2 separate regions of the Homo sapiens genome follow, and region 1 is linked to region 2. The links come from fine-mapping of genetic effects on gene expression. A gene starts in region 2. The other region holds a variant in brackets. All regions are shown on one strand. Distances are between the middles of the regions.

Region 1 (5,375 bases), 130 kb after region 2:
ATAATAAACGTATTTGTACATTCTTTTTGTACTGGTATTTTTACTTTAAAAAGTGTTACAGTGGGATCTCATTAAAATGTACCTTTAGCAATAGCTATTGCCAGATTGCTTCTAAAATTTTTTTAACAGTTGCCATTAGCAATTTGTGAGAATGCCCCTTTCTTGACATCTCTGTTAGCAATAAGTGCTAATCTTTATGATTTTTGCATCTGGATGGAAATGTTGAGTTTGAGCAGCTTTCTATACACTTGGTCTTTTTGTTCTTGACTTTGCTGGGAATTTCCTATTCATTTTTTTTTTTTTTGCACATTTTTCTACTGAGTTGCTTTTCTATCAACTAAGAGCTCTAGGCTGGGCGCAGTGTCTCATGCCTGTAATCCCTGCACTTTGGGAGGCCGAGGTGGGTGGATCGCCTGAGGTCAGTAGTTTGAGACCAGCCCGGCCAACATGGTAAAACCCCATCTCTACTAAAAATACAAAAATTAGCCGGGCATGGTGGTGTGCACCTGTAATCCCAGCTACTTGGGAGACTGAGAATGGAGAATCTCTTGAAATCTGGACGTGGAGGTTGCAGTGAGCCGAGACCAGGCCATTGCACTCCAGCCTGGGCAACAAGAGTGAAACTCTGTCTCAAAAGCTCTATTGATATCAGCATTTTATTTAAAAATGTTTATTGCAAATATTTTTAGGCCTTTTATTTGTCTTTCAACTTTGCTTGTGATATCTTTTGCTTTTGCAAAATTTTAAAATTTCCATATAGCCAAATATGTATCTTTAGTATTATGTTTATATGTTTTGTGGGATAAGCTCTCCATGCATTCCTAGGTTGTACATATAGTCCCCTCCCTAGATTTTCTTCTTAAGAGCCTATTGGCTTATTTTTGACATCTAGCCTTTCCTTTTATGTATTTTAGTAAAATTACTTTGTGTAATTTTTACATATGGGGCAAGTAAGAGGACCAAATTAATTTTGTTCCAAATAGACAGCCAAAGGTGTCAGCACCATTTATTTGAGTCCCAAAAACATACTGAAGGGGGCGTTAAGGCTTCCCTTGTCAGATGTTAAAACATACTATAAGGGCTACTATAATAAAATCAATGTGATAGACAAATGTGTCAATGGAACAGAATGGAGACTCCAGAAATAGATCTCAGTATAAGTAAAAGTTTAAAATATGACAATGCGGTATTTAAATTCTGTTGTTAAAAGAGTAGTATATTTAAAATATATCTACTTTTTAAAAATTTCAGGGGAAAAAAGAATTTGCAGAGTGTGTTCATTTTTATCAACAATGCAGATAAATATTCATGGCATTTGCGAATAAATTCCACAGAAAAATGCAGAATCTTTGCTGAAGAATTTCTCAGTGGCGGCTCATTTTGGTGTATTTCAGTGACTGTGACAATGACAGTCAAGTCATTTGCTGACCTCACACCATAAGTGCTGACAAGTCTGAGGGAATATCCCAGTGGGTCACTTCTTAATTTCAAGGCACTACAGATGACACAGATGGTACAAGATTAATTACCTAAAAACAAAAGAAAATTGTGACCTTCCATTAGTTTCTTCTCTCATTAGTCCATGCACACGGGGCATTTCCTAACCGAATGCAGCTGGGCAGAATTAGGAGGGAGGGTGTGTTCCTTTATTCAGGAATGTATTCATAGTGGCCCATATGGGGAGTGGGTGTGGGCAGTGCTAAGAGATTCTGAGGAGGAAGGTGGTGGTGTGGGAGCATCATTGAAGTGGAGCCGTGAAGCAGAGGTAGGATTTTAACAGGTGGAATGGAAAAGGTGGCCTTCCAAGAACGTGTGTGACATAAGCACACACGCATGTGCAATAGTTTGGTGAAGTGGATATGTGAGGAGAGAGGGGAATGATCAGGTTAGGAGTGATCAGCCCTACATGATCAGAGGTGGGGCCTCCAGCATGGGAGACTTACGTATAGGGCTGAGTTTGTTTTGGAAAGGTCACTTCGAGGGGTGGTTGGAGTAGAGTCCATTCAGAAGTCTCTTCATAACCATGACCTTATTTGGCCTGTGCTCTGTTGACTGCCCCCAGACAGTTACCATTTACTGAGCAATTCCAGATGCCAAGGTTCATTAGGCACTTCCCATGCAAGAACACTGTGGAGTCAGCAATCGATCCTGGTCTTACAGGTAAGAAAACTGAGTAACGAGACCAGTTTTCACTGGGTTATGTTTATTGGCAGAGCTGCTATTCAGAGTCTGGTCTGATAGGATCCAAAGACTTTGCCCTTTCTAACCTATGACACTGTCTTTTACCCACATGTTACATCTGCGCCCCTGCCACCTGCCCACAGTAATACCAGCCTGACATTGCACGATTTCTGTGAAGTTT[T/C]GCGTAATGCAGCTTGCATTATGGTTAATGCACCCCATGCATAATTGAACTGACTTTAAAGAATAAAATATAAATACAAACTAAAAGCAGATTTATAAGTATCTAGAGGCAGCTTTTGTGTGGTACAGCATTTAAGGAAAGCCTTTATCTTGTTGTCAGCATATTGCCACATTAGCCAGAGCCAGCCAGATGGGAATGTGGTGGCCCACTTAGGTCCTCTTTAATTGCTCACTATAAATAGCTTAATGATGCCGCCATAAAAGGTCTCTGATGTAAGTGAGGGGCTCAGTGTGACCCATATATGTGATGGTTTTCTAGGTGTCTGTGTCTGGGAAAATGGATGGCCGTGTCTGAGATGGTTTTCACTGCTGAAATGAAAGCTTCATTTGTAAGCCAATCCTTTCTTACTCCCCCTCCCTTCAGATGCCATTGTCTCCCTCATTCCTTTCTGCTGTCATCTATGGGGAGGTTGAGGTTGACACTTTATCACTCTCACATGCCAGATAGAATTCCAGCACCCACTTGACCTGGCACCAGGGAGAAGTGCCTGCCTGAGCCAGTCCTGATCTAAGAGGGGCCACTGCAGGCCTTCATGGCATGCCCCTTTCTGCTTGGACCATCATGGGAACTTTAGACACCTTGCTTTGCTCCAGACATGGATGAATTTTCTTTTTTTAAAAATTTCCAGAAGTTATTGGGACACAGGTGGTATTTGGTTATGTGAGTGAGTTCTTTAGTGGTGATTTGTGAGATTTTGGTGCACCCGTTACCCCAGCAGTATCCACAGCACCATATTTGTAGTCTTCTGTCTCTTGCCCCCCCCCATCCTTTCCCCCAAGTCCCCAAAGTCCATTCTGTCATTCTTATGCCTTTGCGTCCTCATAGCTTAGCTCCCACATACCAGTGAGAACATACAATGTTTGGTTTTCCATTCCTGAGTTACTTCACTTAGAATAATAGTCTCTAATCTCATAGACATGGATGAATTTTCTTGATTCAGTCACAAGATCATTTCCGCCATGGTTGTCACTAGCTTTTTTCAGTCCCCACCCTCACCCTCACTCCTATCCCCAGCACCGGGTAGGAGTCTCCCTTAAGGTTCTCGCCTGCCACAGGTTGTAGATGGTGCCACATCAGTTCAATAGGGCGGCAGCAACCCAGTGCTCCTTCTGGTCTACCTGCTCCACCCCCACTGGAGGTTGGCTTCCCACCTTTGTATGAAACATCCCAGTAAAACTTGGTTGGCTTCCCCACCAAAGCCTCTTTTTTCAAAAAGGATAGAATCCTGTAGAATTGGAGATATGAGAGGTCAGGAGGGTTGCACTGAAAGCAGAGGGGGCTACTGGGTAAAGACCATACATAATAAAGACCCAAACTTCAGGGGAGTGTGTATAGCTGGAAGAAACAAAAACACCAATGAAACAAACACTGTAACTTGGAGGATTAAAGGGAGATAGAGGGAGTGAGGGAGCAGTGGGAGGCAGTCCTGGGGAGGTTGTATGGATAAGCTGGTGGGAAGGAAGTGTGGCGGGGACAGAGGGAAGAAGGCTGCCCTAGAGATGGGTGAGCTGGCGGAAAGGAAGTGTGGCGGGGACAGAGGGAAGAAGGCTGCCCTAGAGATGGGTGAGCTGGTGGAAAGAAAGTGTGATGGCGACAGAGGGAAGAAGGCTGCCCTCGAGATGGGCGATCTGGTGGGAAGGAAGTGTTGGGGGACAGAGGGAAGAAGGCTGCCCTAGAGATAGGTGAGCTGGCGGGAAGGAAGTGTGGCAGGGACAGAAGGAAGAAGGCTGCCCTAGAGAAAGAGCAATGCTTTCATAGTCTGGAGCTTGCACCTGCCTTTCCACATGTGCTAAAAGATGTATCACAGTGTACAAAGAGCTCTGGACGTGGAGATAATGGTTGGATTCTCACTGGAATAGAAACAACTTGGTACTTTGGCCCATTAGCATGGGTGCTAATCAGTTGGTGTTAGTGTCTGGTATCCTTTCCCTTTATGAAGAGGTGATCTTTTCCTTACACATAAAAAAATTAATACCAGTGATGACATTTGCCATTCATTCAATACCCATGTTTCCTTTGCACCATGGTTCTTCTCTCCAAAGTTTATCATAAGTCAGTAAAGCGGGGGATACTTTCCTTATTCTATTACATTTTGGTCTTCTGTATCCCTTGGTTCCACATTAATGGATTCATCCAACTGTGGATTGAAAATATTCAGAAAAAAGGAGGATTGCATCTATATTGAACATGCACAGACTTTTTTTCTTGTCACTCTTTCTTAAATAATACAGAATAACAACTATTTATCTAGCATTTACATTGTGTTGGGTATTACTAGTAATCTAGAGAGGATTTAAAGTATACAGGAAGATGTGCTCAGGTTAGATGCAAATACTATGGCATTTTATGTCAGACACTTGAGCACCCACAGATTTTTGTATCTGGAGGGGGGGGTCCTGGGACCAATGCCCTGTGGATACTGGGAGATGGCTGTATTCAGGTAACTTGCCAAGGCCACAGAGGTGAATTTAGAACTCTCTGATTCTAAACTCACACTCTTTCTTGGGAACCACGTCTTTTCTCTCAGAAGCACAGATGTGCATGAACCCTGCAATATGATGCCAGGAATTGGTTCTATTTGCTATGGAATTCAGGAATGTAGCATTCTATGTTTTGTGATAGGCATGGGATAGGAGACATGTGACAAAACTGTAAGGTGGACCTTTAATGAATTACTAGCCTAGACACCTTGAAAAACCACATGCCTGGGGCATGGTCTCCGAGCACAGCCATTTTTTTCTGAAATGAACAGGTGCTGCAACCCGTTGTGCTGGAATTGTCAGCGTTGGCTGTGCTCTAACAGTAATAAAGTAAGAAAAAATGTCCAAGTGCTTATTAGGCATCTGAATTTAACTTGTGCCTCCTGCTTAATTAGCATAGTAGTTTGGAATCCTCAGCTCCCAGCCTATCTGTGATCTCCGGCTGCCCCGGATAGTGGGTTTGTAGAGCCACC
Region 2 (5,355 bases):
AGATTATAGGCGTGAGCCACCGCATCCGGCTTCTTTTTTTGACAGAGGCTTGCTCTGTCGCCCAGTTGGAGTGCAGTGGCATGATCTCGGCTCATTGCAACTTCCACCTCCCAGGTTCAAGCAATTCTCCTGAGGAGATGGAATTGCAGGTGCACGCCACCACACCCAGCTAATTTTTGTATTTTTAGTAGAGACAGGGTTTCACCATGTTGGCCAGGCTGGTCTCGAACTCCTGACCTCAAGTAATCCACCGGCCTCAGCCTCCCAAAGTGCTGGGATTACAAGCGTGAGCCTCCGTGCCCGGCGGTGGAACCCGTCTTCACAGAGCTAGCTGGGGAGAACACAGAAGCAGGAAGCGAAGGTCGTTTTCCTCCTCCTTGCAGGCTTCTGAGCTTGGGTCAGGTTGGGGTCTGGTGGGTGGTGGGAGGCTAGTGGGGAAGGCTTGAATGGATTGCGATTAAAGTTTTGATTTGGATTGGGCTGGACTTTTTATTATCAGCAAATCTGACTGTTTATGAACACCTGAAAGTGACAGGAAAAGCTATGAAATTTGCCCCAGATTCTTCCAGGGGAGAAGGGAGAGCTTCTGGAATAATTTTTAAAGACAGTGGTCTGAAAAAAAAAAGTGCCATTTCATGATTTCCCTTCACCAAGTAGTCCAGTTGGTTAAAAAAAAAAATTAACTGTCATAAAGTATTGGTTAACACAGTGGTTTGGAAAGACATCCCCTAAAAACAAAAAACGCCAACCTAAATAGTGCAAAGACCAGCAACATCGTTTCATCTTTATAATGGTAAATGTTTATTCCATTGCTGTTTGAATCAGTCTGCAGAAGTCCTCTGGTTTCGCTTGCCTTTTCAAACCTCCAGGTGCACCGCGTGAGGGAGTCTGAGCATTTCAGGTAGGACTGGAAAAAGGTCTTTGAGAAATCATTAATTAATCTATTTACCTTACCATAAGAGCAGTCAAGGCTCGCTGGAACCCCTCGGACAGTGGGGAGGCACATTTGGTGCTCATTAAACATAGAAATAAGCTTGCTTCTAGAAAGAAACGCCTGCCTTTTGCGCAAATCTTTTCAGAGACTGGCTTTGGGCTCCTATGAATCAGGCACCCTAGCGTCCTCCAAAGTTCTTCCCGATGCTGAACCCCAATGCCTCCTGCTGCGCCTAATTCGAAGCGGCTCCCTCTTCTGTTCTGAGCGGAAAACAGCGGAACCCATTCCTGGAGGCCTGCCCTGGAACGGCCAACTCATTCTTACTCCTTTCTCCTGGGGTCCGATGCTAGGGCACCACGGTGACCAGCCGCGCAGCGGGCAGCGGCCCGCGCCGCGCCCACCGCCTGCGGAGGCTGGGTCTGGGTCTGGGTCTGGGGCTGGAGCTGGGGCTGGGGCTGAGGCGGGAGCTGGGGCGGGGGCGGGGGCTGGGGCTGGGGCTGGGGCTGGGGCTGGGGCTGGGGCTGGGGCGGGCAGGCGCGCGCGCAGGAGCGGGCGCAGGGGCCGTCGGCAGAGGGCGCTACGGCTCCCGGCTGCGGAGCTGCGACGCGGGGCGCGGGGCGCGGAGCGCGGGCCGGGAGGAGGCGCCTGGGTCTCGGCGAGTGCGTCTCCGGGCGGCCGGGAGGGGGTGCGCGCATCAGCTGCCCCGCGCCGCCTACCGCTCGGGCCCGCTCGCCGCCCGGCCACTGTCACCGCGGACGGCACCTCGCGGGCGAGGCGCGCCGGCTGCGTGGCGCGCTGCGAAGGTTGGGCTGGGCGGCCGCCGGCCCCGCGGCTTCTCTTTGTCCAGGCGAGGCGGCTGGAGGAGCAGCCGCGGCCGCGGCGGAGCCGGGAGCGCCTGGGCGTCGTGCGGGCGGCTCCGGTCCCCGGCTGCGCCCCGGCCCTCGAGCGGGGGCGGCGGCCTGGGCGGTGCCTGCGCCGAGGTGAGTGCGGGGGCGCGGAGCGGAGCGCAGCCGCGGCGCGGGCGTGGGCGGGCAGAGGTGATAGCGAGCGCCGGCGGCTCCAGGTGCGGGGGCGCCCCTCGCGCTCCACCTGCGCCGCCGCCGCCGGCTCTCAGGGCAAGTTTATCTCCCCCCTTCTGCGGAAACCCTTGACCGCTTAGCGGAGTACAGACCTGTCGGTAAATAGAAAACTCGAGCTGGAGAGGAGGAGGAAGCAGCGTGGCGGAACCCGGCCCGAGATGAGCGTCTCCGTGAGGGCAGTGGTGGCCTCTTGGACATTACATCTTTCTTGGCTCTTTTTGACCCAGGTGAGCGAATCCTCTGCTGCGCGGTCCGGTGGGGTCGGCTGGCTCTGCTGCCGCCCTCTGGACCCGCCGGAGACAGGTGAGCGGAGTTGGGGAGCGCGCAGCCGGGCTCGGGGCAGCGCCGGGCTGGTTCGGCTTCTCGTCTCCAGAGCGCTGATGCTTCCTGCCCACATCACCTGCTCTGGCTTAGGGACTGCAGCTCTTTTGGCACCTTCGCTTGCTGCCAGGTTCAACACCCACTGCTTTAGAGGCGTTGGTAGGTTAGTTAAGGCGAGTTCTCCCCTACCCACCCCCAGCTTTGGATAATTTGGTCTGAGTCTTCGTCTTAATTTAGTATGAGTGTGTTATTTCCTTCAAGCTTTATAATGGTAAAGCAGTGAAGCGGCTTGCTACATCCATTTTTTTTTTTCATTCTGTGCCTGTGCACAGAAGGAATTACAGGCACACAAGTGATGTTACTACCATTCTATTTTAAATACAAACACGGAAAGAAGTACTCTTGGCAGGATACCAAAGGCGCCTGTACTCTCTGTTATATAAATGCTTAAAAAAATTTGCTCATTGGTAAAGTTATGTGTGATTACCAGAGCACCTAAGAAGAGAGTGTCATGCTTTTAGTTTACTTGGAGATAAGCAGTGGTCTTAGCTTGAGGTACCCTTTTAAGATAATATAGGACCCTATATTAAAAAAGTCATTAGGTATAATTGTAAAGCATTAAAAAATTGGTTTTGTAAAGTCTATTAGGAATTGGTGAGAATTCTTTGACTACTTATTGATAAAAAGATCCTACATGTATACTTTCTAGTTTTCAAACTATTGAATGATTTTATTTTTATCTCTGATGGAAACTTAGTAATTGTGAGTTGCCAGTTATTAAAGATGTGTCTCTCTTTCCCTTCCCTTTCCCCAGGCCCCAAAACCAGTACTCACATTTATGGCTATTTTTTTCAGGTAAAAATACAAAAGTAGAAAACATCAGATATACTGATGGCTGGGAACAGCCCTTGTCCCTCCTCCACCCAGTATTCTGTTCTAATTGGTCTGGGCTGATACCTTGATACCTGTAATGTTAAAAAGCTTTCCTGGTGATTCTAACGTGTAGCCAGGGGTGAGACCCATTGTGGAGCATTGTATTGTCACTTTCTGTAGCCTATGGTGTTGCTACAGTGGTTTAAGGTAAGTCAAAAATACGTTGTTAGAAACATGGGAAGAAAAAAATGGTATTGGAAAGGGGACACATCAGAGAATTACAGCATGTAGACTTTTGTGTTTTGTCTAAATGCTCTTTCTTGATTTTCCTGCGAAGAGTAGTTGATGTTTATTAGGGACCCATAATTCCATGTAGAATACTTACGGGAATCTTAAGTGATATATTTCATTTGCAGAAGTACCAATGAAAGTTGAGTAGTAGTGGCAGGATATTCATTTATGTTTACACGGTAAAGTAAGTCATAGGAAAGATTATTTTCCATATCAAATTAAAAACTTTTACTATAAACTAGTAAATTAAGTGCAAAAAGTTTTTATTGTTTTTAAGGTCAGAAAGAAACCTGGCCTCTGAGTCAGTGTTTTCTGTCTCCCTTATGTAATCCCAAATATCCAAATCTAGGAGCAGATCTTATGGATGGTTTATGAAGGCTTATGTAAGAGCTATGACTGTGCTTTTGGTACTCCATTAAACTCCCTGTTTGGGCTATTACATAATTGACACGGAACTAGACTGTTAAAGCCAAAATCCAGGAGGATGCCGAAACCCACTCCGGCATACGCACTTTTATAATGAATTGCTGTTGCCAAATTGGAGGGAACAGCAGGGATGGTGGTTTGTGAAAGAGAGGTAAGAATAGCATCTGGGGGATTGATGTAATAGAAGACTGTTATGCTTAGCGATTTTCTAGAGATTTGAATGCTGTGGCAGAAACCTCTCTAGTCCTTTCTATCTCCAGCAGAGGCAGATCGACTGGGGAGCTAATGAACCTAAGCCTCAGGTCCCTCCGTCACAGAGGCTTCTTTGGAGCCCTCTGGGAGGGGCACTGGCAGTGTGTTCATGTGGTCATCCCTGAGTTTGTATTTGTACTTTTGGATTTTTTTTTTAAATAAGGAGAGTACTCTTTCTATATTCCCACCCCCCAATTATATAAACCCAAGGTTCCACAGACCCTGAATCTATCCCTGTCTTCAAACCTGTGTTCAAGTATTAACTTATAAAATTGCCTATTCTTAGTTTAATTTTTGTCATCTGAAAAGATGAAAAAAATCTGTACAATATCATAGTTGACTTGCTGAGAAAATGCAAACTGCTATAACCTAGGGCTGTATAGAGCCACTGAAATCAGGCACATACCTGGAGAACTAGCTCTTTGCCTCGTGATCGCACACACATGGGATTGTTTTGGATCAGTGTGTGAGCTGGAGGTGGAGAAGAGTGGAAACGGGTTGGGGAAGGGAGGAAAGTGGGTTAAAGCTCTTCCTCCTCTCAGAGGCAGGATGCCAAGGGGAAAGGAAGGAAAACTATTGAAAGATGCTTCATTAATAAAATGTTAATAGGAACAGATAGCATCAGCTCCATAGGAGATCCTTCTGTAAGCTCAGGATTGGTCTCTAATACGAATTTTCAACAGTAAGCAAACAAACTCATTCCTCGAAAATATCCTACAGGAAACAAATGCAGGTTTGGAAGGACTAGATGAGTATCTGCTTGTTCCCATTAGCAGTTTTTATGAGCAAGTGGGAGGCTTATAATATCTACCACACACATGTTTGAAACGAGTTGTTGAAAAGAGTCAAGGAGTTTCCCCTTTTCTCTGAAATGATTTCTACTTCCTATGTGAATTTGGATGCCTTTAGATCTTATCATCTTGACCCTTCCCACCAACGGGTATACCTTGTCTATCAATTACCCATCCATCAGTCATCTATCTACCATCCACCCACCCATCCACAGAGACTCTCTTTTTGACCAAACTTTAGTCAGGCTCCCCTGAGCCCTCTTCTCAACTGGGCCTCAACCTTGGCCCGTAAGAACTGCAGCTTTCAACACAAACAATTTTGTCTGTGCTCCCACCCTCCAACGGATTTGAAAACACTGTAGCATGGTGTATTAGCCTGTTCTCACCT

Alleles and levels. Positions count from the first base shown, and alleles are read on the strand shown. Sizes are in standard deviations (SD) of each study's normalised expression.
As copies of T replace C in region 1, the expression in liver of the gene that starts at base 1,968 in region 2 goes up (moderate effect, 0.75 SD a copy in GTEx).

The links. PIP is the estimated chance that this variant, and not a neighbour inherited with it, causes the effect.
Region 1: its variant is the best candidate, but not a certain one, in a credible set for the expression of MTUS2 in liver (GTEx, PIP 0.68).

The regions. Positions count from the first base shown.
Region 1 is chr13:28,952,878-28,958,252 of GRCh38, forward strand. The region is part of intron 2 of MTUS2 (microtubule associated scaffold protein 2); the gene reads left to right. Among named protein-coding and RNA genes, the nearest start is that of MTUS2, 140 kb to the left of the region's middle. The variant T/C (reference allele first, on the strand shown) is at 2,363.
Region 2 is chr13:28,818,372-28,823,726 of GRCh38, forward strand. It overlaps MTUS2 (microtubule associated scaffold protein 2), which reads left to right and starts at 1,968. Exons shown (of 16, transcript NM_001033602.4): 1 at 1,968-2,240. RefSeq lists silencers at 1,433-1,782, 1,873-1,942 and an enhancer at 1,842-2,342.